Linked DNA regions of Homo sapiens. The protein of the gene in region 1 interacts with the protein of each later gene in a pairwise test. Each region holds a gene or a part of one and is shown in the gene's direction. Other genes may lie near its edges.

What was found.
Region 2: the proteins of STX8 (region 1) and GPR151 interact in binary tests that used the Homo sapiens proteins (3 or more experiments, as listed by UniProt).
Region 3: the proteins of STX8 (region 1) and BSND interact in binary tests that used the Homo sapiens proteins (3 or more experiments, as listed by UniProt).
Region 4: the proteins of STX8 (region 1) and SSMEM1 interact in binary tests that used the Homo sapiens proteins (3 or more experiments, as listed by UniProt).

What each region holds. Positions count from the first base shown.
Region 1 is NC_000017.11:9,502,811-9,509,840, reverse strand, and holds part of STX8 (syntaxin-8), read left to right. Parts: intron 1-4,678; coding exon 4,679-4,803; intron 4,804-7,030. UniProt on the Homo sapiens protein: Vesicle trafficking protein that functions in the early secretory pathway, possibly by mediating retrograde transport from cis-Golgi membranes to the ER.
Region 2 is NC_000005.10:146,513,179-146,520,065, reverse strand, and holds the start of GPR151 (G-protein coupled receptor 151), read left to right. Parts: upstream 1-3,875; 5' UTR 3,876-3,952; coding exon 3,953-5,212; 3' UTR 5,213-6,887. UniProt on the Homo sapiens protein: Proton-sensing G-protein coupled receptor.
Region 3 is NC_000001.11:55,001,903-55,008,932, forward strand, and holds part of BSND (barttin), read left to right. Parts: intron 1-3,119; coding exon 3,120-3,214; intron 3,215-5,094; coding exon 5,095-5,370; intron 5,371-6,311; coding exon 6,312-6,726; 3' UTR 6,727-7,030.
Region 4 is NC_000007.14:130,210,860-130,217,374, forward strand, and holds the end of SSMEM1 (serine-rich single-pass membrane protein 1), read left to right. Parts: intron 1-2,620; coding exon 2,621-2,675; intron 2,676-5,114; coding exon 5,115-5,611; 3' UTR 5,612-5,985; downstream 5,986-6,515.

The sequences.
Region 1 (7,030 bases):
TTAATCTAGTTATCCAGTCTATGTCTTTTAATGAGATATTTAATTCACTTACATTCAAGGTTATTATTAATAGGTGAGGACTTATCTTGTCATTTTATTGTTTTCTGGCTGTTTTCTATATCCTTTGTTCCTTACTTCCTCTTACTGTTTATTTTTGTGGTTGGGTAGTGTTCTGAAGTGATAAGGCTTGATTTCTTTCTCTTTTTCCTTTGTATATTGGCTCTACCAGTGAGTTTTATAGTGTCACATGTTTTTATAATGGCTGTTATGATCTTTTCACTTCCAGATGTAATACTCCCTTGAGCACTTCTTGTAAGACTGGTCTAGTGGTGATGGATTACCTTCGTTTTTGCTTGTCTGTGAAAGATTTTATTTCTCTTTCATTTCTGGAGGATATCTTTGCTGCATGTAATATTCTTGGTTGGCAGATTTTTTTTTTCTTTTAGTACTTTGAACATAAAATCCTATTCTCTCTTGGTTGGTAAGATTTCTGCTGAGAAATCTGCTATTAGTCTAATGGGAACTCCCTCATAGGTGATTTGATGCTTTTCTCTTGCTGGTTTCTTTTTGTCATTGTTGTTTGTTTGTTTTTGAGATGGAGTCTTGCTCTGTTGCCCAGGCTGGAGTGCAGTAGCGTGGTCTCAGCTCACTGCAACCTCCGCCTCCCAGGTTCAAGTGATTCTCCTGCCTCTGCCTCCTGAGTAGCTGGGATTACAGGCACCTGCCACCATGCCCAGCTAATTTTTTTGTATTTTTAGTAGAGACAGAGTTTCACCATGTTGGCCAGGCTGGTCTTGAACTCCTGACATCGTGATCTGCCAGCCTCGGCCTCCCAAAGTACTGGGATAACAGGCATGAGCCACCACATCCAGTCCTTCTCTTGCTGTTTTTAGAATTCTTTGTCTTTGACTTTTGATAATTTGACTCTAATGTGCCTAAGAGGGGTCCTGTTTGAATGGAATCTATTTGGGATTCTTTTAGCTTCCTGGATCTGGAAGCTCCCAAGACTTGGGAAGTTTTCAGCTACTATTTCATTCAATGTTTTCTGTACATTTGCCCTTCTTTTCTCTTTCTGGAACACCTACAGTGTGAATATTTGTTCACTTAATAGTGTCCCATGAATTCTGTAGGCTTTCTTCATTCCATTTTACTTTTTCTTCCCCCCATCTTTCTGTGTTATTTCACAAGATCTGTCTTCAAGTTCAAAAATTCAGCCACGCATGGTGGCTCACACCTGTAATCCTGGCACTTTGGGAGGCCAAGGCGGGCAGATCACTTGAGATTAGGAGTTCGATACCAACCTGGCTAACATGGTGAAACCCCATCTCTACCAAAAAATACAAAAATTAGCTGGATGTGATGGCATGCCCCTGTAGTCCCAGCTACTCAGGAGGACTGAGGAGGGAGAATCACTTGAGCCCAGGAGGTGGAGGTTGCAGTGAGCTGAGATAATGCCACTGCACTCCAGCCTGGGTGACAGAGTAAGAACCTGTCTCCAAAAAAATAAATAAATAAAATTCTGCTTGGTCTAGTCTTTTGGTAAAGCTCTAGCTTGTACTTATTTACTTATTCATTGAATTCTTCCACTCCAGGATACCTGTTTTGTTCTTTTTTATGGTATTTATCTTCTTGTTGAATTTCTTGTTCAAGTCATGAATTGTTTTCCTGATTTCATCAAATTGTCTAGCTCTATTATCTTGTATCTCACTGTAAGATTACTATTTTGAATTCTTTTTCTGTCATTTTGTATATTTCTCTATCATTGGGGTCTATTACACAGGAATTATTGTATTCCTTTGGAGGTGTCATGTTTCCTTGCTTTTTCATGTTCGATGTATCCCTATGTTGATGTCTATGCATCTGGTGGAATAATTGCCTCTTCCAATTTTATGTGGTAGGTTTTGCAGGGAAAGAAATATTTGTATGAATGGATCTTGGGGTGTTGGTTCAGTGGGATGCATTGGCTTTGGTTCCAGGTGGGCATAGTAGTGTAGTTTTTGTGTAGTTTCTTTAACTGTAATCCATGCCAGTGACATTTGTGAGTGTCTCAGTGGCCTCAGCTGAGAGGCTTTGTGGTGGTGGTGGCATGACTTTGCCAGGGATGTGTTCACCGGGCTATTTGTCAGGTCAGCGATGCATGCGTTCACATGGTGGGTTGTCCAACTTGGGGTCTCACTTGCTGGGGTTGGGGTTGGTGCCCTTACTCTGGCTGAGGGCACAGTTGCTTGGTTGCTTGGCCAGTCTGGGAGTATGCCTGCCAGAGGTGGCCTGTTGGGCTGTTTCTCAGGTTTGGGACATGGGCACACTGCTGCTCAGCTCTCCTGTGGGGAATGCCTGCTGGGGACAGCCTACAGGGCTATTTCTCAGGCATGAGAGGTGGGCATAAGTCTGCTTGATGGCCCCGGGGGCATGTCTGCCAGGAGTGGCCTGAGGAGTTGCTTCTCAGACCCGGGATATGAACACAAGGCTGCTCGGCTGGCCTAGGGGAGTTGCCGCTAGGGGTGACCCATGGGCTGTTTTTCAGGCCTGAGATATGGACACATGGCTACTTGGCTGGCCTGGGGGTATGTCTGCCAGGGGCAGCCTGCAGGGTTGTTTCTCAGGCCCTGATTGAGGTGTGGGGCCTTTGGGCAGGCCGGGGGCATGTCTGTAGGGGGCTGCACTGCCCGACTGTTTCATAGATCCGGGATGCAGGAGCGTAGTCACTCTGCTAGCCTGTCAGTTGCTCAGGGCCTTCTGCTTGCAGGAGGGTATGCAGCAGTTTGGTTGGCTCAAGAGTGGGTTTGCCCTGGGTGGGACTGTTTCTGTGGCTGAAAGTGCAGAGGGTGGTTTCCCTTCATTGCAGGACCAGAGTCACAGCCATTCCCGAGCCCTGGGTTGTGGAGTTCAGCCACCTGTGTAGCTTTGGTGGCATGAAAATGGAGTCCCAGTGCTGGAAAGGTGCAGTGGCTACTGGCCCCAAGAGGAAGGCACACTCCAGAGGGAGCTGTGGTCTAAAGATGGCGCCATGCTGTAGTAACTTGGCTCATGGAGTGGGTGGGGAGTGGGGAATGCTCCTAATCTGGGGCAGTGCAACTGTACGAATTCCCAGCAGCTCTCCAAACTGGGCTCAGAACTTGCAAGGACTGGGGGATCCTCCTGTAATAAGGACTGTAGGTGTTTGCAGTGGCAGTGGGGGCAGGTGGGAATCTCCCGCTTACCTTTTCCTCACAGGGAGAAGGCCTTCATATGTCCAGGCCTCCTCAGTCCTGGTGGAAGAGATGGGGCCACAGAGGCTGGGGGCCTTCATGCTGCCCTCCTAGACTTTCAGTCACCACAGGGGCCTCTCCACTTCCCCACTGCAGTTCAGCACTTTCCCACACTGAAGTCAAATCTTAGCTGTTTATTCATTGCCTTAGTCCTTTCCTAAGAAAGGTGGGTGGGGGGGGGGGGGAGCGGGTGAGCACCAGCTGACTCTAATCAGTCATCTTGCTGATGTCCCACCCATCATTTATTCTATGATTTTTCATGAATCTGTTGAGAGCTCTAAAGATGAGTCTAATGTTCATCTCTTTGTTGAATTGGTCAGAAGGTCGTGTCCTGGACAAGATGATCTTCTCAGCTTGGACAGAATGCAGACAGGTGGGGAGAGGAGAGGAGCTACTTGAGAGGAGAAAAATCCTGAAAACATGGGGACTGAGGTGGAAATCATGTGTTTCCTGTTCCTTAGACAGCGAGACCAACTGGTCTCGTGCAGAAAGGGCACATGGATTATTAGAGGGAGTAAGGTTAAGATTGACAAATCAGAATGTGTTTATTCTGTTATGAATGCTACATTATAGTCACAAAATTGGTATTGAAACCCTGCATGTGTTTCTGTCTCTGAGCAACCAAATACTCCTTTTTTTTTTTTTTTTTTTGAGACAGAGTCTTGCTCCGCTACCCAGGCTGCAGTGCAGTGGCGCCATCTTGGCTCACTGCAACCTCCGCCTCTCAGGTTCAAGCGATTTTCCTGCCTCAGCCTCCCAAGTAGCTGGGATTACAGATGTCTGCCGCCAAGCCCGGCTAATTTTTTTTGTGTTTATTAGAGACAGGGTTTCATCATGTTGGACGGGCTGGTCTGGAACTCCTGACTTCAGGTGATCTGCCCGCCTCAGCCTCCCAGAGGGCTGGGATTACACACATGAGCCACTGCGCCCGGCTCCAAATACCCTTTAATGGGAAATTATATGGTCTTTTTTTAAAACAACAACAACATTGTAATCTGTAGTCGCAACATTGTGTCTGCTTGAGAAATAATATTTGTACCTTTGGGGTCACGTAGCCTCTGAGACAAACTTTGTCCTAATAAAAAGGCCGCTGTTCGGCCTTCTGTTTTTGAAATTTAAGAACCTCATTTATTACCAACTTCTTTTAGGATTATTAACTCAAACATCTCTTGGAGGATTAGTACAAATATTATGTTCTCCCATCATCTCTATAACAGGCTGTAATTCTGAGGACCAAGCTTGTGCCTTATTCATCCTTGTATCTCGTCCAGCACTGAATACAGTTCCTGGCATAAACTAATGATGCAATAAATTGTGTTTGAATTGAATTTTCAAAGCATTCAAGGCTGGCCACCTCTGCACTTGTGGGAGTAATTTGCATTTGAGCTGCATGTTTTGAGATATATCATGCATTTAATATTGTTCTTTAGGTCCAGCCTGATGAGTGAAGAGGCTAAGCGAGGAGCACCCAACCCTTGGCTCTTTGAGGAGCCAGAGGAGACCAGAGGCTTGGGTTTTGATGAAATCCGGCAACAGCAGCAGAAAATTATCCAAGGTACTAAATATCCTGAGGAGTGTGGGCTCAGAAACCTTGCCAGAATTTTTTTTTTTTTTTTTTTGAGACGGAGTCTTGCTATGTCGCCTAGGCTGGAGTGCAGTGGCGTGATCTTGGCTCACTGCAACCTCCACCTCCCGGGTTCAAACGATTCTCCTGCCTCAGCCTCCCGAGAAGCTGGGACTACAGGTGCGTGCCACCATGCCCGGCTAATTTTTTGTATTTTTAGTACAGACAGGGTTTCACCCTGTTAGCCAGGATGGTCTTGATCTCCTGACCTCATGATCTTCCCACCTTGGCCTCCCAAAGTGCTGGGATTACAGGTGTGAGCCACCGTGCCCGGCCACCAGATTTTCTACTGGAGCCTTGTTTGTTCCTCATCCCCATTGAAAATTGGAGTGAAAACTGCTGGTCTTTTAAAGCTTTTGGTGTGTGCCTCAGGATACCTGAGGAATAGACAGTTGCTGTCACTCATCTCGGTGGCTCATGGAAGTGGTGATTTTCCATTGGGCAAGAGCAGAGAGAGCAGATCTGAATCTAAGTCCAAGCAAATTTGATGCTTATGCTCTTTACTTTAGCTTCACGACTGGGAATTAGTCTCCAAACACAAGACTCCATTTTATTTTTTAAATTATAAAATATGTCAGTTTGGCTTTTCTTTTTTATCTTTTGCCCTGTGGCTTTTTAACTTTTTTTTTTTAAACTTTCTTATATTTTTAAAATTTCAGAAGTATGCATGATTGTTATACAAAGTGTAAACAACATAGGAATGTATAAGATGAAAGCCCTCCATATTGTTTCTCCAATCTCAAACTGGAAACAGATTAATATGTATTTCCTTAGACCTTTTGTATACATTCACATACATATATTCAATATAAATATACTTATTTTACATAAATGGAATCATGAGATATTTAGCTCTCTCCATATATATATATAATTCCACACCTTTTTAAAACTTAGTATGTGTCGGCTGGGTGTGGTGGCTCACGCCTGTAATCCCAGCACTTTGGGAGGCTGAGGCAGGAGGATCACCTGAGATCAGGAGTTCGAGACCAGCCTGGCCAACATGGTGAAACGCCGTCTCTACTAAAAATAAAAAATTAGCTGGGTGTGGTGGCACGCACCTGTAGTCCTAGCTACTCAGGAGGCTGAGGCAGGAGAATCGCTTGAACCCAGGAGGCAGAGGTTGCAGTGAGCCGATATAGCATGTCACTGCACTCCAGCCTGTGCAACAGAGTGAGACTCCATCTCAAAGGAAAAAAAAGAAAAAACCACTTAGTATGTGTTATGGACTTTTTAAAATGTCAGTATGTACAGATACATTATTCTTTCTAATTCTGCTTTTTAAAATCAGCTTTATTGCCAGGCCTGGTGGCACATGCCTGTACTCCTGACACTTTGGGAGGCCAAGGCAGCAGGATGGCTTGAGTGTAGGAGTTTGACACCAGCCTAGGCAACATAGTAAAATCCCATCTTTAAAAAAATTAATGAATAAAAAGGAAGAGGGAGGAGGAGGAGGAGAAAATAAATCTAAAGTCAGCTTTATTGAGATGTAGTTGATATGATCATAAATGGCCCATGTTTGAAGTATATGATTTGATAAGCTTTGACATATGTATATGCCTGTGAAACCATCACTGCAATAAAAATAATGAACCTAATTGTTATTCCCAAAAGTTTTCTTCATGCCTCTTTGTAATTCTTCCTATTGTTCCTCCCTGCCATGCCCAGACAACTGCTGAACTTCTTTCTGTCACTATAAATTAGTTTCCATTTTCTATAATTTTATATAAATAGAACTATACAGTATGTACCTTTTGGGGAAGAAGGGGCTCTGGCTTCTTTGTCTAAGCATAATTATTTTAAGATTCATTGAACTGGTTATGTGTATCAGTATTTCACTCTTTTTTTTTTTTTTTTTTTTTTGAGACAGAGTCTGGCTTTGCTGCCTAGACTGGAGTGCAGTGGTACGATCTCAGCTCACCACAACCTCCACCTCCTGGGTTCAAGCAATTCTCCTGCCTCAGCTTCCCGAGTGGCTGGGATTACGGGCGCCCGCCATCATGCCCAGCTAATTTTTTTTGTATTTTTAGTAGAGATGGGGTTTCACCATGCTGGCCAGGCTGGTCTCGAACTCCTGACCTCAAGCGATCCACTCGACTCGGCCTCCCAAAGTGCTGGGATTACAGGCATGAGCCACCGCGCCCGGCCTGCATTTCAC
Region 2 (6,887 bases), on another chromosome or scaffold:
AGATCGTGCCACTGCACTCCAGCCTGGGCGACAGAGCCCTCAGAAAAAATAAAAATAAAAATAAATTTAAAAGTCTCAGAATAGAATATCCATTCTGCTGGAGGCTACTCAGCATTTCAAGAGCAGGGAAATCTGCTCTTTACCTTTTCTCCATCCCAAATAACTCCTTTCTTGAAAAGAGCTTTTATTGAGGTATAATTTGCATACCATAAAATGCAATCATAGAACATTTTCATCACCCCAAACATATCCTCTGTGCCTATTTGCGGTCACTCCCCTTTCACACCTCGGGACCCAGGGAACCACTATTCTACTTCCTGTTTCTATAGATTTGCCTTTTCTGGACATTTCCTATTAATGGAATCTTACTGTAGGTATTTTTTTTTTTGGTCTGGATGTTTTTATTTAGCATAGTGCTTTTTTTCATCCATATTGTTGAATTTATCATTCATTTTTATTGCTGAATAATGTTCCATGGCATGAAGGTAGCCACTTGTTTATCTATTGACCAGCTGATAAACATTTGGGTTGTTTCCAGCATTTTGTGGGGATGAGGTTGTTTCCAGTTTCCATCTCAAATAATTCTCAATTGTTTTTAATTGTTCTGCTCTATCCACCCCATCCATATCATTTTTCCCCAGAATCCCTTCTATCCAACAGGAGAGGTTCATATACTAGGCACCTCCCCAAAATAAATAAAAATAAGGAAACCTGACAAATGTTCACCACATCTACAACTGAATTCTATGTTTTAAGTGAATATGCTATAAACAAAGATTCAAATAACTTCCACTTATAATGCAAATAAAGACTTCTTTTATGTTTGCTAATTACATTTATCCTTTATACGGAAATAATTTTAAAATGAAGAAAATGTAGATACAAGCCACATATAACATCCATCAGATACTCAGATATACAAGGGCTAATATTCAAAGTAAAATGTGAAACTTGGGTAGTATGGTCTGAATCTTTATGTGCCCTCCAAAATCACATGTTGAAATTTTCAGCCGGGCGCAGTGGCTCAAGCCAGTAATTCCAGCACTTTGGGAGGCCGAGGCGGGCGGATCACGAGATCAGGAGATCGAGACCATCCCGGCTAACACGGTGAAACCCCGTCTCTACTAAAAATATAAAAAAAAATTTAGCCAGGCATGGTGGCGGGCACCTGTAGTCCCAGCTACTCAGGAGGCTGAGGCAGGAGAATGGCATGAACCCAGGAGGCAGAGCTTGCAGTGAGCCAAGAGTGCGCTACTGCACTCCAGCCTGGGGTGACAAAGTGAGACTGTGTCTCAATAAATAATTAATCGGTGAACTCAGATGAAGTATATAGGGCAATTCTTTGTGCTCTTCTTGCATTTTTTCTCTATACATTTGCAATTATTTTTATTTTTTTATTTTTTAAGACAGAGTCTCTCTTTGTCACCCAGGCTGGAATGCAGTGGGACCATCTCGGCTCACTGCAACCTCAGCCTCCCAGATTCAAGCAATTCTCCCGCCTCAGCCTCCCGAGTAGCTGAGACTACAGGCATGTGCCACCACACCTGGCTAATTTTTGTATTTTTTAGTAGCGACGGGGTTTCACTATGTTGGCCAGGCTTGTCTTGAACTCCTGACCTCGGGTGATCCACCTGCCTTGGCCTCCCAAAGTGCTGGGATTACAGGTGTGAGCTACCGTGCCCAGAAGCAATTATTTTTAAATAAAAAGTTAAAATAAATTTCCCCCAAAAGAGCGGAGAAAGTTCATTATCCTTCAGTCCAAAGACTTTATCTCTAGCTGGAGCACCAGGAGATGCTTCCCTGAGTCAGTACCAATAGACTTGGGAAGTACCACATGACAGTCTTTAGTTTCCCTCAATTGTCTATTAAGAATCAAATTTCCATGGTATTAAAGGTGGCTTGAACCCATTTAGCTTTTTATCTTATACAGCTTCAGGAGGCTTGAATATCATAATCTTGAATATATAAGCCACAGTGTGAAGCAGTATATTTGTTTCTTGGTTCTGAATGAATCTCTTCCACATACATCAAGTGAACTACCTTCCTTGTAGTCTACAATCTGCAAAACATCACTCTGCTCCCTCCCCCATTTTCTTCCCTGTAAGACGTTGCGGGCCTCTTCACACCCAAAAGTGATGCTTGTTGAGACTCAAGGATATTTCATCCTTAAGTAGTTACTGGGAGTTACTGTGCCTTGCTGGAATAAGGTGTTGCCCCAATTTACTGTTCTATAGGAACAACTACTTCCCAGAGGTAAAAGGAAGGAAAGCAAAAGGAAATAGAAATGGAAACAAAGGAACCCAGCACCACTGACCACTGTCCCAATAGCTATACTGATCACTACTTATTTATTTTCTAGGACACTGAAGAATTTTAAAACGTCAGACCCTTCTTTACTTGCGAAAAACGTGAAAGCACAGTACCAGAATCCAGAGATCTGAATGCAGCAGCATACTCTCCTGTATATCATGCTTTAGCTTTTCTGACTAGCCACACTCAATGTAGCATGTATCTTCATATCAACCCCACAAACCCCATTCTCTGAACATTTTGAGCTCCTCTAATCCCCCCAGAGTATCCATTGCTTATTTTAAAATTTCAGGGCTAGTTCTACCAAATCATCTTATCTGAGAATTTTTTTATTTCTAGAGACAGAGGATCACTCTGTCACTCAGGTTGGAGTGCAGCAGCACAGTCATAGCTCACTGCAACCTCGAACTCCTGGGCTTAAGCAACCCTCTCACCTCAGTCTCTTAAGTAGCTAGGACTACAGGTGTACACCATCATGGCTGACTTTTTTTTTTTTCTTTTTTTTTTTTTTCTTGTTTGTTTGGTAGAGGTGGGGGCAGGGGTCTCACTTTGTTGCCCAGGCTGGTCTCGAACTTCTGGCCTTAAGCAATCCTCCCGCCTCCACCTCCCCAAATTCTGGGATTACAGGCATGAGCCAGTGTGCCCAGCACAAAATCTTTACCAACTTTAAAATATAATTTAAAAAAATCTCTTAAATGCCTTCCACATAGATATTGATTTTTCTTTCATTTCTCTTGTCTTGGTAAATCCTCTAGGAATGCTCTCTGAAAAGCAGCTTAATTCATCATGCAGTTGCCTTCATCACCATCACTTGTTGAAAAGTCTTATTAGTATGTAAAGCAGTTCTAATTTGGAGCTGTAAAATTGCTTCTAAAAACTCGTAATAGAATAAACTGAGAGTCATCCATAATTAGATTTTTTTAATAGGACTTCTAACTTGTTTTCATTATCCAGCTGTGTTTGAACTCAGCCAGCTGTTGATGGAACTGAGGTGGTTGTAAGGGTTGGGGAAAAGAAGAGGAAGCTCATCTCTGCAGAGTGGGTAGGGGAAGCTTTAGTTCTCAGTTTAAAACAGTGGTTCTCAAAGTGTGGTCTCCCAACCTGCAGCATCAGAGTCTCATGGGAACTTGTTAGAAATGATTTCTTGGGCCCTACTCCAGACCCACTGGATCCGGCCATCAGGTGAAGTTCAAAGAACTTGGTTCAGATGTAGTGTTCACTAAATTACAGACAGCAGTCAAGATTTTAGGAAGAGCTGGTTGAAAATAATTGCCTTGACTGGCTCTAGTGACCCCCCAAGGAACACATGCCACTTACATGTATGTTCTCTTCATTCATCATTTATGGGTATATTTGTATTACTCCACAGGGCTGACGATTTGGTATTAGACTTGCTAATGAGCAGCAGCCATGTGCTCCTGCTATCTGACAGTCGGTACAGTCACAAGTATATTGTATGCAGCAGAGAAGAGCTTAACAGCCAGCCTCCTTCCACATTCTGCTCTCAGGAAATAAGCAAGGGGAGGATCCAGAAGTGTCATTTGACACTGACGACAGAGTACTTATTTCCTATGCAAAAGAGCCCAGGCAGAAAGACAAACCTAAATAAGAATCTAACTTCTGTAAGAAGCTGTGAAGAGTGATGCTGGCAGCTGCCTTTGCAGACTCTAACTCCAGCAGCATGAATGTGTCCTTTGCTCACCTCCACTTTGCCGGAGGGTACCTGCCCTCTGATTCCCAGGACTGGAGAACCATCATCCCGGCTCTCTTGGTGGCTGTCTGCCTGGTGGGCTTCGTGGGAAACCTGTGTGTGATTGGCATCCTCCTTCACAATGCTTGGAAAGGAAAGCCATCCATGATCCACTCCCTGATTCTGAATCTCAGCCTGGCTGATCTCTCCCTCCTGCTGTTTTCTGCACCTATCCGAGCTACGGCGTACTCCAAAAGTGTTTGGGATCTAGGCTGGTTTGTCTGCAAGTCCTCTGACTGGTTTATCCACACATGCATGGCAGCCAAGAGCCTGACAATCGTTGTGGTGGCCAAAGTATGCTTCATGTATGCAAGTGACCCAGCCAAGCAAGTGAGTATCCACAACTACACCATCTGGTCAGTGCTGGTGGCCATCTGGACTGTGGCTAGCCTGTTACCCCTGCCGGAATGGTTCTTTAGCACCATCAGGCATCATGAAGGTGTGGAAATGTGCCTCGTGGATGTACCAGCTGTGGCTGAAGAGTTTATGTCGATGTTTGGTAAGCTCTACCCACTCCTGGCATTTGGCCTTCCATTATTTTTTGCCAGCTTTTATTTCTGGAGAGCTTATGACCAATGTAAAAAACGAGGAACTAAGACTCAAAATCTTAGAAACCAGATACGCTCAAAGCAAGTCACAGTGATGCTGCTGAGCATTGCCATCATCTCTGCTCTCTTGTGGCTCCCCGAATGGGTAGCTTGGCTGTGGGTATGGCATCTGAAGGCTGCAGGCCCGGCCCCACCACAAGGTTTCATAGCCCTGTCTCAAGTCTTGATGTTTTCCATCTCTTCAGCAAATCCTCTCATTTTTCTTGTGATGTCGGAAGAGTTCAGGGAAGGCTTGAAAGGTGTATGGAAATGGATGATAACCAAAAAACCTCCAACTGTCTCAGAGTCTCAGGAAACACCAGCTGGCAACTCAGAGGGTCTTCCTGACAAGGTTCCATCTCCAGAATCCCCAGCATCCATACCAGAAAAAGAGAAACCCAGCTCTCCCTCCTCTGGCAAAGGGAAAACTGAGAAGGCAGAGATTCCCATCCTTCCTGACGTAGAGCAGTTTTGGCATGAGAGGGACACAGTCCCTTCTGTACAGGACAATGACCCTATCCCCTGGGAACATGAAGATCAAGAGACAGGGGAAGGTGTTAAATAGATTTAAGTTTCAAAGCAAAACAAACTGTGATTATTGTATTTACTTGTACTGCTGCTTATCAATATTGCTGACTTTACAAACTGATATAATTATTACCATTAGGAATTATAAAAATATTTCACAATCTACACTTTCCAAATGTGCAATGTGGTAAGTAGAGAACCATGTTAGAAGTAATAATTGTTTCAGAATTAGAACTTGGCTTCCCAAACAATTTAAGTGTTGTGTAAAGATGTTGCTGTCAAAGTGATTAGACAGCCTGGCTATTCTGTCATTTGTTCACAGTGGTTTTACTGGGTACCCCCTAGGACCAGCCCTGTAGTGGACCGGCTGGAGCCTGCAGTAGAGGTTCTGTCAAAGCTGAGCCCCTTTACCTTCAGTTTCACCCAGGACCTGCTAGTCCTAATTTTACCTACTAAATTGTATTTCACATAACCAAAGCTCAAAATCTACTTTCACTTGAGATTTTTAACACATTAATGATAAATTTTAATGCGTTCTTCATTTACTTAATAAGTGTTAATTTACTTGATGAAAAGTCCGTATCATAATGTTCATGACTGAAGGTCAAAGAAAAAGAAACAGCACCTTATTCCAATTCTGGACTCATTTCAAGCCATGGCTGGTTCTGGCCAAGTTTAAATAAATTCAAACTTAAACTAAAGCCTGCTTCAGTGAACTTTTTAAAGCTACCTGAATGAGTCTTCAGTTTCTAAGTCTAAGAATTGTAGCAGCTTTCCAATGACATTCAGTAGTCTGATATGGGGGAAAAAATACTTAAAAAAATGTCCTCTCTTCACTTCCAAAATGTGGGAAAGTTATTTTTCTATAAGCAGAAATGTGTTCCTCCTAATATCTCCTTTCTCCCAAGATAAACCATGGTTAATGATATAGGTATAGATTACTCCTCAAATACAAATAGAAGATGGAGATGGTGATCTTTCTTGTTAATGGTACTAAACTTACCCTTACTCAGAACATTGAACTTGAACCCTACTCAACTTTTAAAATACTATAGGCTAAGTTATAAAAATAATCTAGCAACCTGAGAAAGAGATTAATATCAAAAAGAGAAAATTCAACAAACCAAGACAGAATTTGGTTAAGAATACAAAATAAAAAGCATAAGGGCAATGCAGAAAGCAGTAAAACTGTGTACCCAGACATACGGTAAAATCTGAGTAACAGGCAATAACCATTCATTTTATAGCAAGGTAAAACATACCCAATAAAACATGATTATGATATATTTCTGCCCCTTTTAAGTATAATGACATTCACCCATGATTCTTGATTACTTTGTTATGGAACTCGGGTATTTTCACTGAAAGTTTCCCTCAGAATAGAAATGCCTTTAGGGCAAACCAAGCCATGGAGAATCTGAAATATAAAGGATATGTTATGGAAAAAAAAAGATTTTGCTTTTTGTCTATGGGTTTCCGGATTCTTTGCTTTTTCATAAGTGGTCATAGTTTGCTTTTTAACACAGGAGGTAGGGCTGTATTCTTTTTACATCCTTCATTACAAATTTTATTTGAAGCTCATGTATTCAAATAAAGTAAAATTTAACCCAAGAATCCAAAATATTGTCTTGTGATATGGTAGTTATAAAAAGGATTATCATTGTCTGTGATTATTTGAATAAATAATTTTTATGTTCATTATATGTAGTAAA
Region 3 (7,030 bases), on another chromosome or scaffold:
GAGGAAGGTAAAGGTAGCGAGGGAGTGGGGCTCAACTCTTCAGGGCCTGGGATGCCATGGTAAGGAATTTGGAGCTTGTCCTTTAGTTAATGGGACACGACCAGCTTTGCAGTTTGAGAAAGACATCCAGAAGAAGGAAGGTCTGGGGGCAGCCATACCAGTGGGGAGGCTTCTTCTCTGGTCTTGGTGAGAGCTGACAGTCATCTGGAATAATGCAGAATTCAAACACAAAGCTGTAGGAACTAAGGTGACATTTACAGTTCACTTCACATAGAGTACCCGTTGTGGCTAGGCATAGCACCAGCACTTCCACCCAGGTTATCTTATTGAATTTCTGAAGTAGACCTGGTCAGATTTGGTGGTCAGCTGGGCCTCAGGCATGAGAGAGGAGAAGGGATCAGGGCAAATCTAGTGGATGGGACAGTTGGAGGTGCTGAGCCCATTAGTGAAGATGGGGCAGGGGAGCTGTGAGCAGGGAAAGGAGTGGCAGGGAGAGCAGGGTCTCTGCCCACGCATCCCCCATTCCTCACTCCTGCCTGCTGTGCTGGAGACCAGGACCAGGGTCCTGACTGGTGGCCTCCCTCTCTCTGGAGATTGCTCAGTGTTCTGCCTAAACACAAATCTGACAGTGTACTCTCTTGCTGAGAGTCCTTCAGGACTCCCCATTGCATCTGGAGAAAGGCTAAGCTTCTTAGTTTGGTGTTCTGGTGGTCTCCATGGTCTGATATCCTCTCTCCAGCTTCAACTCTGCCTGTCCCTCCTCATCAAAAAACTTGCATTTTAAGATGCCCCATCCTTTCCTTCTCCAAGCTTTTCCTAAGGGTGGTGATGATGATATGATGGTGATAATGAGAGTGCAGTGGGGATAGTGAGGGTGAGAATGGTGATGGTGATGATGATGATGATGATGTTAGTGATGGTGCTGATAAGAATGATGATGGTAAAGATGGTGATTATGAGATGATGATGGTGAGGATGGTGATGGTGACAATGGTGATGATTATGGTGATTAGGAGATGGTGATGATGAGGATGGTGATGGTGAGAATGGTAATGGTGATAATGGTGATGATGATAATAGTGATAATGATGGTGAGGATGGTGATGGTGACAATGGTGATGATGATGATGATGATGATAGTGATGATGATGGTGACGGTGATGATGATGGTGACGGTGATGATGATGGTGCTGACTGGGCCATGAGGTAATGAGGCAGAGGAAGAGGCAGCTTCTAGGAAGTACAGTACTAGCTGGGAAGTACAAAGCATCCTTAACGGGGGTGGAAGAAGCCCAGGCCCCTGCCTTATTTCTTTCCTTTTCTTTTTTGTTTTTAAGAGACAGGAGCTCAGTCTGTCACCTAGGCTGGAGTGCAGAGGTGCAATCATAGCTCACTGCAGCCTCGAACTCCTGGGATCAACCAATCCTCCTGCCTCAGTCTCCCAAGTAGCTGGGATGACAGGCTCACACCACCACATCCAGCTAAATTTGTTATTTAATTTTTTTATTTTTTTTGTAGAGACAGCGTCTTTCTTCATTGCCCAGGAGCTCTGTTTTATTTCTGGACATCTAGAGAAAGCGCACTCCTCATAGGAGTACAAAGGCCCCCTCCATCCATCATTCCCTTCTCCCCATCAGAATGGAGCTTTCCTAGTGCAGACAAGTGTCTTCTACTCACTTTGCTCTATGGGAAGGGGAATAGGGAAGTGCTATTTATGAATCTGGTATAATACAGTGGGGTCTCAACAAATATTTATTGGAAAAATTTTCAGCCGAGGAGAGCAAGACTCAGAGAAGTCAGACAACTGAATCATCAATAGCATCAAGTTATGATTTACTGAGTAGTTACTATGTGCTGGGGACCATGCTGAGGGATTCCCTATATATGATCTCATGAAATTTTCACAGCAACCTCAGGAGACTGGCGTAACTAGCCCCATTTTAAAACTCATGGTAAAATACACGTAACATAAAAGTTAGTGTCTTAAACATATTTAAGTGTACAGTACAGCTAAGTACATTCACATTGTCATCCAACCAATTTCCAGAATGCTTTTTGTCTTGTAAAGCTAAAACTCTATACCCATTAAATCACAATTCCCCATTATCCCACTCTCTAGCCCCTGGCAACCATCTTTCTTCTTTCTGGCTCTATGGATTTGACTATTCCAGGTGCCTCAGAAAAGTAGAATCATACAGTATTTGTCTTTCTGCTCAGCATAATGTCCTCGAGGTTCAGTGATGTTGTAGCATGTGTCAGAAGTTCCATCCTTAAGGCTGAATAGTATTTCATCATATGGATAGACTATATTTTGTTTATCCATTCATTCATCAGTGGATACTTGGGTTGCATCTACCTCTTGGCTCTTGTGAATACTGCTGCTCTGAACATGGCTGTGCAAGTATCTCTTCGAGGGTAGCCCCGTTATACAGAGGAGCACAGAGAGACTGCGAAGAGAGATGACCTGCCTAGGGCCCACAGTGAGAATCTGGCAGAGGAGGGATCCTCACCCCATCTCCCAGATCCCACAGGCACAGCTCCTCTCCCTCACCCACTGCCTCCTTCATGATCTGCCTCCGACTGCACCACGCAGTGCCCACCTAGGGCTGGACTTGCAGAGACCTCTTGATTCCTGAAAGTTCAGGGACAGGGACTGGCGGGCATAACTTCTCTGTCACCCACTGCAGCCCATGTGGCAAAAACACATGACAATGACTTGCTTTCCACTCATTCACCAAATATGGATGAAGCACCTACTATGTGCCAGGCTTGTGCTGGGCACTGGACGAAGACCCCTGGGAAATGAAAAGATGTGAGCTCCTCAAGGACAGGGTTCTCTTTCACTCCTTGCTGCTCCTAGTGCCTGCGACAGTGCCTGCACACAGCAGATAATAAATGTTTGTAGAGTGAATGAAGAACCAGGAAGGGAGCAGGAGCACAGAGGTCCATCCTCCCGCTGGTGCTGTGCCCCAAGTAGGCCCCTCTCCTGTCAAGCAGGGAGGCCTCCGTGGTGCAGCCTGTCTCCCAGAGCTCATGGAGAGGTTTGCCAATTCCCTGAGGGGACAGTAGCCCCCCTACCCTGGTCAACTGCACAGAGGCTGTCTCTCCTTTGCTTGCAGATCACCTTCGTCCCTGCTGACTCTGACTTTCAAGGCATCCTCTCCCCAAAGGCCATGGGCCTGCTGGAGAATGGGCTTGCTGCCGAGATGAAGAGGTAGGTGCCAGGCCCTCTCGGGAGGGGAGGAGTAAGCCCCATAGGCCAGTCTCCCCTGACTGAGGAGAGTGAGAGGGAGGGCAGGAAGGCTGTTTGCCTTCTCACTTACTGAGAATGTATTAGAAATTATGGACTGTTTTCAACTCTCAATTCTGTGAGTTAGGCATTATTATTCCCATTGTACAGATGAGGAAACTGAGGCCCAGGGACTTTGTCTTGTCAGGGACGAGACAGTGTTTCGGTGAATACAAGATCTCCATGAAACAAATCATACAATGAAATAAATGTACTGTGAGAAATACAGTGCAATAGAGTCACAGGAGTAAGTGCTTCTACTACTGACAAACAAGAGGCATGGTGGTGGCCAAGGCTCAGCCTCAGGGCTTTGCCGCCTACTCGCTGCCTGACTTCCAGCAAGCTACTGACCTCTCTTTGCCTCGTCTGTAAAATGGGGATACTAATAGTACCTATCTCCTAGGGCTTCAGGGAGGGTTAAGTGAGATAATATAGGCAGAGTGCTAAGAACAGAACCTGACACACAGTAGGTCTTCTATGAGTGTTTGTCATCATTAGTAAGTGCCTTCTGTGTGCCAGAGACTGAGTCAGGCACTGACTCCCTCAGTCCTCATAGAAACCCTGTAAGGTGGGGGTGTTAGGCTCTTTATACAGCTAGGAAGATTGAGGCTCAGAGAAGTGTAGTCACTAGCCCCAAACCTCATGGGGAGTCAGTGATGGAAGCCGGGCCTGCACTCAGCAGTGGTGGAGGCGGGGCCTGCACTCAGCAGTGATGGAGGCGGGGCCTGAATTCAGGCCTGATCTGGCCACAAACTGCTTCCCTCTCTGGAGGTTTTGAGCCCTGGCTCCCATGGCACAGCCAAGAATGCTCCAGCCCTGGAGAGGCAGTGGGACCACCAACCCCCTGGGCTGTGACTCTGCACTCAGGAGGCCGGGCTTCAAGCCCAGAGTCTGTCGGCTGGGTTAGGGATGATCTCTGCTTTGCTTGGGGAAGGGGTTCATAATGGCGTTTTCTGCCCCTGGCACCCAAGGTGAACAACTGCCTCAGTGGGAAGGAAGGGGATAGACCCTGTGGGTATGGAGGCCAGCCAGAGCTCCGTCTCAGGGCCGGTTACTTGGGGTGGGCTCCTGTGATACAGTGGGGGCTCCGGCCACCCTGGGTTCTGAGCTCTTCCCAGTCACTTCCCGGCTGTGTGACCCTAGGCAAGGGGCCTAGTCTCTGAACCTTACTTTCCAGAGGGACTGTAGCACAGTCATAGAGAACATGATATCTGGAGCTCCAGTACTATCACCTAGGGTCCATGTCACCCGGGTACAAGTCTGTTAGAGACTCTGTGCCTCAGTTTCTTCATAGTATCTCTTGTAATTATGGTGAGGGTTAGATGAGCCAACTAACAGAGCCTGGCAGGAAGGAGTTCCCCATTGCTGTAGACTGTCATTGCTGGGTATGTCCTCATCTGTAAACTGGGAATGAGAATTTCTGCCTCAAGGCATTTTTTAGAATAATGTTTAGAATAATGGGTTGATAAGCATTCAGCCTTTACCCACCATCTGGGACCCGGCAAACTCAATGTTAACGGGTCTTCATTTTGCAATTGCATCCTTGTGGTTAACTTTGGAGGCATCAGGTGAAAAAAACACTGGATAGAGAGTCAGACTTGGGGTCAGGCCTGAGCTTTGTCACTTAATTAACTCACCTTGCTGGGCCTCAGCCTCCTCATCCCTGAAACGGGCGCAGTAACATCCCCCAAAGGCTTCTTGTGAGGTGAGGGGAGACCACATACCCAAAGCAAACAGGGCCGGGGAGAACACTGGTGTTTGCTGAGTGACTCTTTGCCGCCTGCCTGTTCTCTCTCCCACTCCAGCCCCAGTCCCCAGCCGCCCTATGTAAGGCTGTGGGAGGAAGCCGCCTATGACCAGAGCCTGCCTGACTTCAGCCACATCCAGATGAAAGTCATGAGCTACAGTGAGGACCACCGCTCCTTGCTGGCCCCTGAGATGGGGCAGCCGAAGCTGGGAACCAGTGATGGAGGAGAAGGTGGCCCTGGCGACGTTCAGGCCTGGATGGAGGCTGCCGTGGTCATCCACAAGGGCTCAGACGAGAGTGAAGGGGAAAGACGCCTAACTCAGAGCTGGCCCGGGTGAGTGCTTAGAGGGCAGGAGTGGGGCTTCTGCCCAGTTCAAGGGTTAAAAAGGAGAGGAGTGGGGGACCGCCGAGGGGTGGGTGGGGACACTGGGGGTAAGGAGAGGGCAGTGGAGGGTGTGGGACACCCTGAGATGTGGCAGATGTGGCAGACAAATGAGTATGGGCTTGGGAGTCAGGCCTCAGTTCAAACCCCAGCTCCTGTGCTGTGTAGCTGTGGTAGGTTCCTTACTTTCCCTAGCCTCAGTTTCCCCACACAGGGATGATCATTCCTACTACCCAGGAATGTTGAGGGTTGGGACAGTGCATTTAAGTACCTGGCATACAGTAGGCCCTTGATGTCTCTGAATGCTTGTCGTGAGTAGCAGGGGGCCAGGAGCCAGAGGACCCGAGTTCAAATTTGGGTCTGCTGCTGACCTGCTCTGTGACCTTGGGCAAGGCCCTCCCCACTCCACTCCCATCCCTGTCTGTTTGTGAACTGAGCTCCTTATTCATCCATGTACTTATTCATTCCATCCACATTACTGAGCACCAACTTCCTGCCCAGCCTTCACTGGAATCTACCCCTGAGGAGCTCTGAGTCCAATGAGGGAGGCAAAGACACCCGGGGACACCTCAGTGTAACTGGGCCTATGAGCAACAGAGGAGAACCCTGAATAATTGGAGAAGTAGATGAGTGACCTGGTTCAGATAATAGCATAGTAATAGCCCTATTTCATGAGCACCTTCTATGTGCCAGGCACTGTGCAAAGTGCCTTGCACATATTATCTGCTGTAAACCTAAGAAAGAACTGCAGGAGTGAATTCTGTTATTGGGAAGAAACTGAGGCCCGGGAAGGTGGATTATCCTACCCTAGGTCTTGCAGCTAGCGGCTGGAATGTGGACCCAGGCATTCTGACTCAGAGATACCCTTGCCCTTGTGGTCTTTGTCCCTGCAGCCCCCTGGCCTGTCCCCAGGGCCCTGCCCCCTTGGCTTCCTTCCAAGATGACCTGGACATGGACTCCAGTGAAGGCAGCAGCCCCAATGCATCTCCACATGACAGGGAGGAAGCTTGTTCCCCACAACAGGAACCTCAGGGCTGCAGGTGCCCGCTGGACCGCTTCCAAGACTTTGCCCTGATTGATGCCCCAACGTTGGAGGATGAGCCCCAAGAGGGGCAGCAGTGGGAAATAGCCCTGCCCAACAACTGGCAGCGGTACCCAAGGACAAAGGTGGAGGAGAAGGAGGCTTCGGACACAGGTGGGGAGGAACCTGAGAAGGAAGAGGAAGACCTGTACTATGGGCTGCCAGATGGAGCCGGGGACCTCCTCCCGGACAAGGAGCTGGGTTTTGAGCCTGACACCCAAGGCTGAGATGTTTGTGCTCCGTAGCTTCTAGTCTGGAACTGCTGCTGACCCCTGTGTGACATCACAGGGCCTCAGTTTCCCTATCTGCAAAATGGGATGATATGGAGGTTCAATGAGATGGTGGCATTTTGAGAATGGTAAAGAAATACACAGGGAGGGGATGATGACTATTAGTGGACTCTTGTTTTTCCAATAGTTAGTGGTCTTTGGCCAACCTTTGAAGGCAAAATATGATTTGTTGAGGTTTGCAGCAGCTGAAGCCCTCAAAAGCATTTTCCACCTTCCCCCAAAGCTGACCTCTGAGAGGAAC
Region 4 (6,515 bases), on another chromosome or scaffold:
CTGTGGAAATGATATAAGCCTAATAAGTGTTTTTAAATACCTTCTCCTGTCTATTACAAAAGTACACATTATATAGAAAATGTGGAAATTATAGGGCAGAAGACAAAATAAAATAAAAATCACTCCAGATTATGTAGAAATAACCAACTACTGTTAACTTTTAGGTTTATAAACTTCCAATTATTTTGATTTTCTTTACATATATTAAATTTATTTTTTTCCTTTTCTATAACCTAAGTGATACATATTAAATTTAAAATATTTAAGCCTCTTCCAAAAGCATTTTTTATAAAGTGGTATCTTTTTTTTTTTTTTTTTGAGACAGAGTCTCGCTGTCACCCAAGCTGGAGTGCAGTGGTGCAATCTCTGCTCACTGCAAGCTCCGCCTCTCAGGTTCACACCATTCTCCTGCCTCAGCCTCCTGAGTAGCTGGGACTACAGGCACCCACCACCACACCCGGCTAATTTTTTTTGTATTTTAAGTAGAGACAGGGTTTCACCGTGTTAGCCAGGATGGTCTCGATCTCCTGACCTTGTGATCTGCCCGCCTCAGCCTCCCAAAGTGCTGGGATTACAGGCATGAGCCACCGTGTCTGGCCAGAAAGTGGTATCTTAAAAGTGAACTCCGCTTTCAAGATTTTTGGAGAATGATTGCTGTAACCCAGAAAACAAAAAGGCACCTCATTAAAGATGCTTGCCTACCATTGCAGAGATCAGATATTAAGAATGAGCTGAGGATCTTAGATTGCAGTTATAAATACCGAACTATGGCACTTTTCATCCCAAAGAAACTGGACTTCCACATAAACTCATTTTTTTCCTAATTGTAGACAATTTGAAAAAATTAGAAGAGAAAAAGTCCATTTCACCACTTAAAGCCAACCATAGCTATCACTTTTATATGCTCCTTAAAGTCTTTTTTTTCATATTTTAAGCTAATTTGTCGCTCAAGCTGTATATACAAATTTGCATCTTGATGTTTAACCCAGTATGGTAGCACACTTATTTCCTCATGTTATGACATACTTTTATTATAATAATTTTACAACTGTTTATTATATAATTGTACCATAATTTACTTAAACCATTGTCTACTTTTGAATTTTCTATTATCCTAATTATACTGTGATGAATGTTTCTGTGGACAAAGCTTTCTTTCTTCTGAGGGTTATTTCTTGCTGATAGATTCCTGGAGAGAGAATTATATGTCAAAGGTGTTAATGAAAATTTCTAGTTTTTGTTATTTTCTGAAAGAGTTGGTTTATATCTGTGTCTTTTGGCAAAATCACTTTCAGCATTAGAAAGTGGGACACTAATCTGAAAAATGGGACAAATATATTTATGGAGTATTGGGGGGCAGAATATTTGAAATTGAAACTATTCAAAGAAATCCATTTCTTTTGGTTGCTGTATTCACAAATAATATATCATGATTACATTTTGGAGGAAACTTTCGGAGGGATTAAGGAGATATTAAGTTCATGAATTCGGTAAAGATCTTTGTGTATGGTAGATGTCTTCTGTCTTAAAGAACTATCAGTAATGTACCCTGATCAAGTGTCCTTTAAGAACTAAACTAATCTGGGCCAGGCGCGGTGGCTTACATCCGTAATCCCAGCACTTTGGGAGGCTGAGGCAGGTGGATCACCTGAGATCAGGAGTTCGAGACCAGCCTTTTCAACATGGAGAAACCCTGTCTCTACTAAAAATACAAAATTAGCCGGGCGTGGTGGTGCATGTCGGTAATCCCAGCTACTCGGGAGGCTGAGACGGGAGAATCACTTGAACCTGGGAGGCGGAGATTTCAGTGAGCTGAGATCGCACCATTGTACTCTAGCCTGGGCATACAGAGCAAGACTCCGTCTCAAAAAAAAAACAAAAACAAAAACAAAAAAACAAAACAAAAAAACAACAACTAAACTAATCTGAGTACTATCAAATTTTTTAAAAACACTACTTCTCTGTAATGTAAATGGGTACAGGAAAGCTTTATAAGCTATAGCTCCTTGTCAGTGTTATTTTCTCTCAAGTCTGTTCCATTTTGTTTGGTCCAAAACATTTTGGTAGATGCTGCTATCAAAGCATAGTCTTAATGGGAAGTGGAAGTAGGATCACTATAACAGGAACTCAATACATACTGAATTAGCTTATTATTTAACTCAGTAAGTACTTGTTTAAACTGAATGTTTAAAATTAGACATTGTCAGGCCAGGCCCAGTGGCTCATACCTGTAATCCCAGCACTTTCGGAGGCCAAGGTGGGCAGATCACTTGAGGTCAGGAGTTCAAGACCAGCCTGGCCAACATGGTGAAACCCTGTCTCTACTAAAAATACAAAAATTAGCCGGGCGTGGTAGCGGGCACCTGTAATCCCAGCTACTTGGGAGGCCGAGGCAGGAGAATCACTTGAACCCGGAAGATAGAGGTTGCAGTGAGCTGAGATCATGCCACTGCACTCCAGCCTGGGCAACAGAGTGAGACTCTCCAAAAATAAATAAATAAAATAATAAAAAAATAAAACCAGACATTATAAATGGGCCTCAGCAATAGTGTTTTATAACAAGTACATATTATCAAAAAACAACTGAGATCACTCTTACTAACCTATGTTTCTGAAACAGATGTCTGAGGATAAAAAGGATGAAGGCAGTGGGACAAGTACTTCAGTAAGGAAAGGTGAGAACCAGTGCATATTTGGTGTTGGACTATGAGGGGAAGAATATGTGTGGTGTTGCATGCCTGTAGTCCCAGCTACTCAGAAGGCTGAGGCAGGAGGATTGCTTGAGCTAAGCAGTTCAAGACCACAGCTTGAGAACATAGTGAGACCCAGTACCAAAAAAAAAAAAAAAAAAAAAAGAAAAGAAAAGAAAAAGAAAAAAAGAAAAATGAAATAAAGACAAAGAAAGAAATTTGTGCTGAGTGTGGAAAGCAAAAAACAGAGATGAACAGCCAACAGCATTGTAAGACTTTGCACACTAGAGGAGGCCCATTGGGGTTGGGTGAGTTTTTGCTTTGGACTCCCTAGTGCAGAGGGACAGTTTAGCTGCTTAGCAAGAAGCTATGAATTACTGGGAGGTGGAACTCAAGTTCTTTTTTCACTCCTTAGCTCTCTCCCTTCACATTGCTTGCCCTTCCCACATCCTCATGGTTAGTGCTATTACAGGATTATGAACTGTCTATGACATCTTTTTCAATAACCTATAAGCAGTGGTGCACTGGTAAATGTTTAACAACTGGTTCTCCAAAACTCCTGTGTGTACATATGCTTACTAAAAATTTTACTGATATAAAGGTTGCACGTCATCTCAGCACCTCCAGAGGCTGAAGCAGGAGAACTGCTTGAGGCCAGGAGTTCAAGATCAGCCTGGAGAACATAGCAAAACCCTGTCTTTTTAAAAAAGAAAATTAGCTGGCATGGTTGTTCGCACCTGCGGTCTCAGCTACTCAGGAGGCTGAGGCAACAGAATCACTTGAGCCCAGGAGTTCGAGGCTGCCAGTGAGGCATAATCATGCCACTACACTCCAGCCTGGGCGGCACAGTGAGTCCCTGACTCTAAAAATTTAATAAATAAATAAATAAAAATAAATAAATATATATCACACCATTTAAAATAATAAAATATACAATACTCCTTATGGCCAATTTCATATAGACAACTGATTCTCACAAAACGCTCTCCTTCATTTTTGCCAGACCCTTGCACCTTAGCCAACCATGGCTGCAATTGATGAACAAGTATAGTTCCAGCGTGAATGTTATTTTCCTCTAAGTTAAGGAGTGAGATGAAAATGAAGCAGAAGATAGATGTATGTTGGAACTTAACTTGGTTGTCAGTGATGTGAGTGACTTCTTTGCTGGAATGGATAATAGTTCTAAAATACTGGAAGAATATTTCCTCATTTTGCAGGGTTAGTCACAATGTAGTGGCTACAGGGATGATACTGAAATGTAATATGTAATCTGCATTAGTAACATGTTCTCCATCATTTTCTTAAGCCTAGACAATCAACAAAGCCATACATCAAGCCCTGATGTTTAGTGTCTGCTGATTTTCGTGGTATAAATACTTCCACCAAAGCTGATTTTAAGCTATCCACCTCATGTCATTGAACATGGAGTTGGGAGGAGATGTGCAGTAGTGCACCCTTAACATAGAATTTCCGCCGGGCGTGGTGGCTCACGCCTGTAATCTCAGCACTTTGGGTGGCCAAGGAGGGTGGATCTCCTGAGGTCAGGAGTTCGAGACCAGCCTGGCCAACATGGCAAAACCCTGTCTCTACTAAAAATACAAAAAAATTAGCTGTGCATGGTGGCACGTGCCTATAATCCCAGCTGCTGGGGGGCTGAGGCAGGAGGATCACTTGAACCTGGGAGACAGACATTGCAGTGAGCCGAGATCGTGCCACTGCACTCTAGCCTGGGCAACAGAGCGAGACTCCATCTCAAAAACAAAAAAAAACAAAACAAAAAAACAGCATAGAGTTTCCAGCATCCAAATACAACGGACATAAAAAACCAGAAGAGCACATAGCATAAACAAATGTAGTAAGATAATTAGGAAGTGATGGGTTTTGAGTATTACCTCTATTTTTAGTAACTTAATTTATTGTAAGTTGGTATAATTTAATTTTTAATAATGGCTATGTTTAACCATCTCTCAAAATTCCTGAAAGTTTATCAGCTCTTCTGAGCAGGTACAAGCCAACTTCCTCACACCACTACGTAAAGGAAAGATCCTTCTTAGTTCCTGCTCCCCAAATCACATTCATATACCTGCTTGAATCTGTAAGACTTCAATTTTCAAAGGGAAAAAAGAGTTCTTCCCTGGAAAAGTTTAGAGATCTTTTCCTTTGACCTTATGTTTAGCATCCACAAAACTTCAAAAGTGATATGGTGATATGTCAAGCATCTATCTAAGCTCTCTGGTCTGCAGGAGTTGGGATATGGTACTAGAAAATGCAGTCAGCTGCCAACACTTGCAGGTGACTGGAGAAAAGCAATGGCTTGACAACTGGCCACTAAGAGTGAGCTCACACGTGCACAGGCTTCTTAAGTAATAGGAATTCATAGTAACCAACAATATTACTAACTTGATATGTTTCATTGGTTGTTAGCAAGCAAAGAGACTTCCTGTAAGCGGCAAAGCAAAGACAGTGCCTGGGATCCCTCACAAACAATGAAGAAACCAAAGCAGAACCAACTTACCCCTGTAACCAACTCAGAAGTGGCTTTGGTCAATGCCTATCCTGAACAAAGACGAGCCAGGCGCCAGTCTCAGTTCAATGAGGTGAACCAGAACCAACATGACAGTGATACTACGGAGTATGGCAGTGAAGAGTCTAACTCAGAAGCCTCCTCGTGGAAGGAGAGTGAAAGTGAACACCACCCATCACCAGACAGTATTAAGAGGAGAAAAATGGCTCAGAGGCAAAGGAATCTGGGAAGTTACCAAATGAGCGAAAGGCACTGCCTCCACTGCAAAGCCTTGAGAACCAACGAATGGTTGGCGCACCATTCCCGACAGAAGCCTTCAGTAACACCGCCAATGAAAAGAGACAGTCAAGAGGAAAGTTCCATATCTGACATTAACAAGAAATTTAGTAAATTTTGAATTTTATCACGTTCTTCCTTCACTTGAAGCCAAATGAAAGAGATGAATAAAACATGAAAAATCACCAGAGCTATAGGTGAGGAGACTTTTACAACAAAGTCTCTCTACCAACAAACAAAAACATACTTGGAACCCAAGAGGTAAAATCTCACACAATTCTTCGTTCAAAAAAAAAAAGGCCATCACGTGTTTATGGCACCATTGGAACACCAAAGATCTATATCTGCTATGATTTTTTTATTTGAAATAGCACAAGACAGATATTTTGTGCCTTGAGTGTATATATTTTGTGCCTTGAGTGTATGTATTTTGTTTATGTCTGTAATATGAATAAGAAAGCTCTTTGAAAATGTATTATTTATGTTGAGAAACCACTTAAATGTATTCAGATGTTTTGCTTATCTGACTGACTGAATGAACTAGGTGAAGTTGGTTGGAATAGAATTGCCCCATCCTCTCTAGGTTTGACCCTACAAGAACTGTATTGCCACACATGTCAGCTAGGGGCTGGTGTGGAAGAGGAGCTCAAGAGGCTGGAATAAGATCTGATTCCTGGAGTAGGGAGGAGAGGCAGCATGACCCAGAAGGCAGTTGGCAGTGGGCTACCCACGGTTGTCATCCACAAAGTGCATGGCAAATGTTAAAGGAAAAATTATTCTGACACTTGTTAAAATGGCCAGGAGGACTTCATTCAAGACTCTATTGCAATAGAGAGTAGAAATTGAGCTCCACTCTGAATACAACAAGGACAAGTGGGGATTTATAGCCAGGAGCAGGAGGAGGACATCACAGGATGGGAAATTACCAAAGAGAGACATCAAACATAGGAGTATTCCTGATAAAGTGACCTAACAGGATTCATGCTAAAGGCAGGCCAAGGACTTACACATCAAAAGTGGAGAAT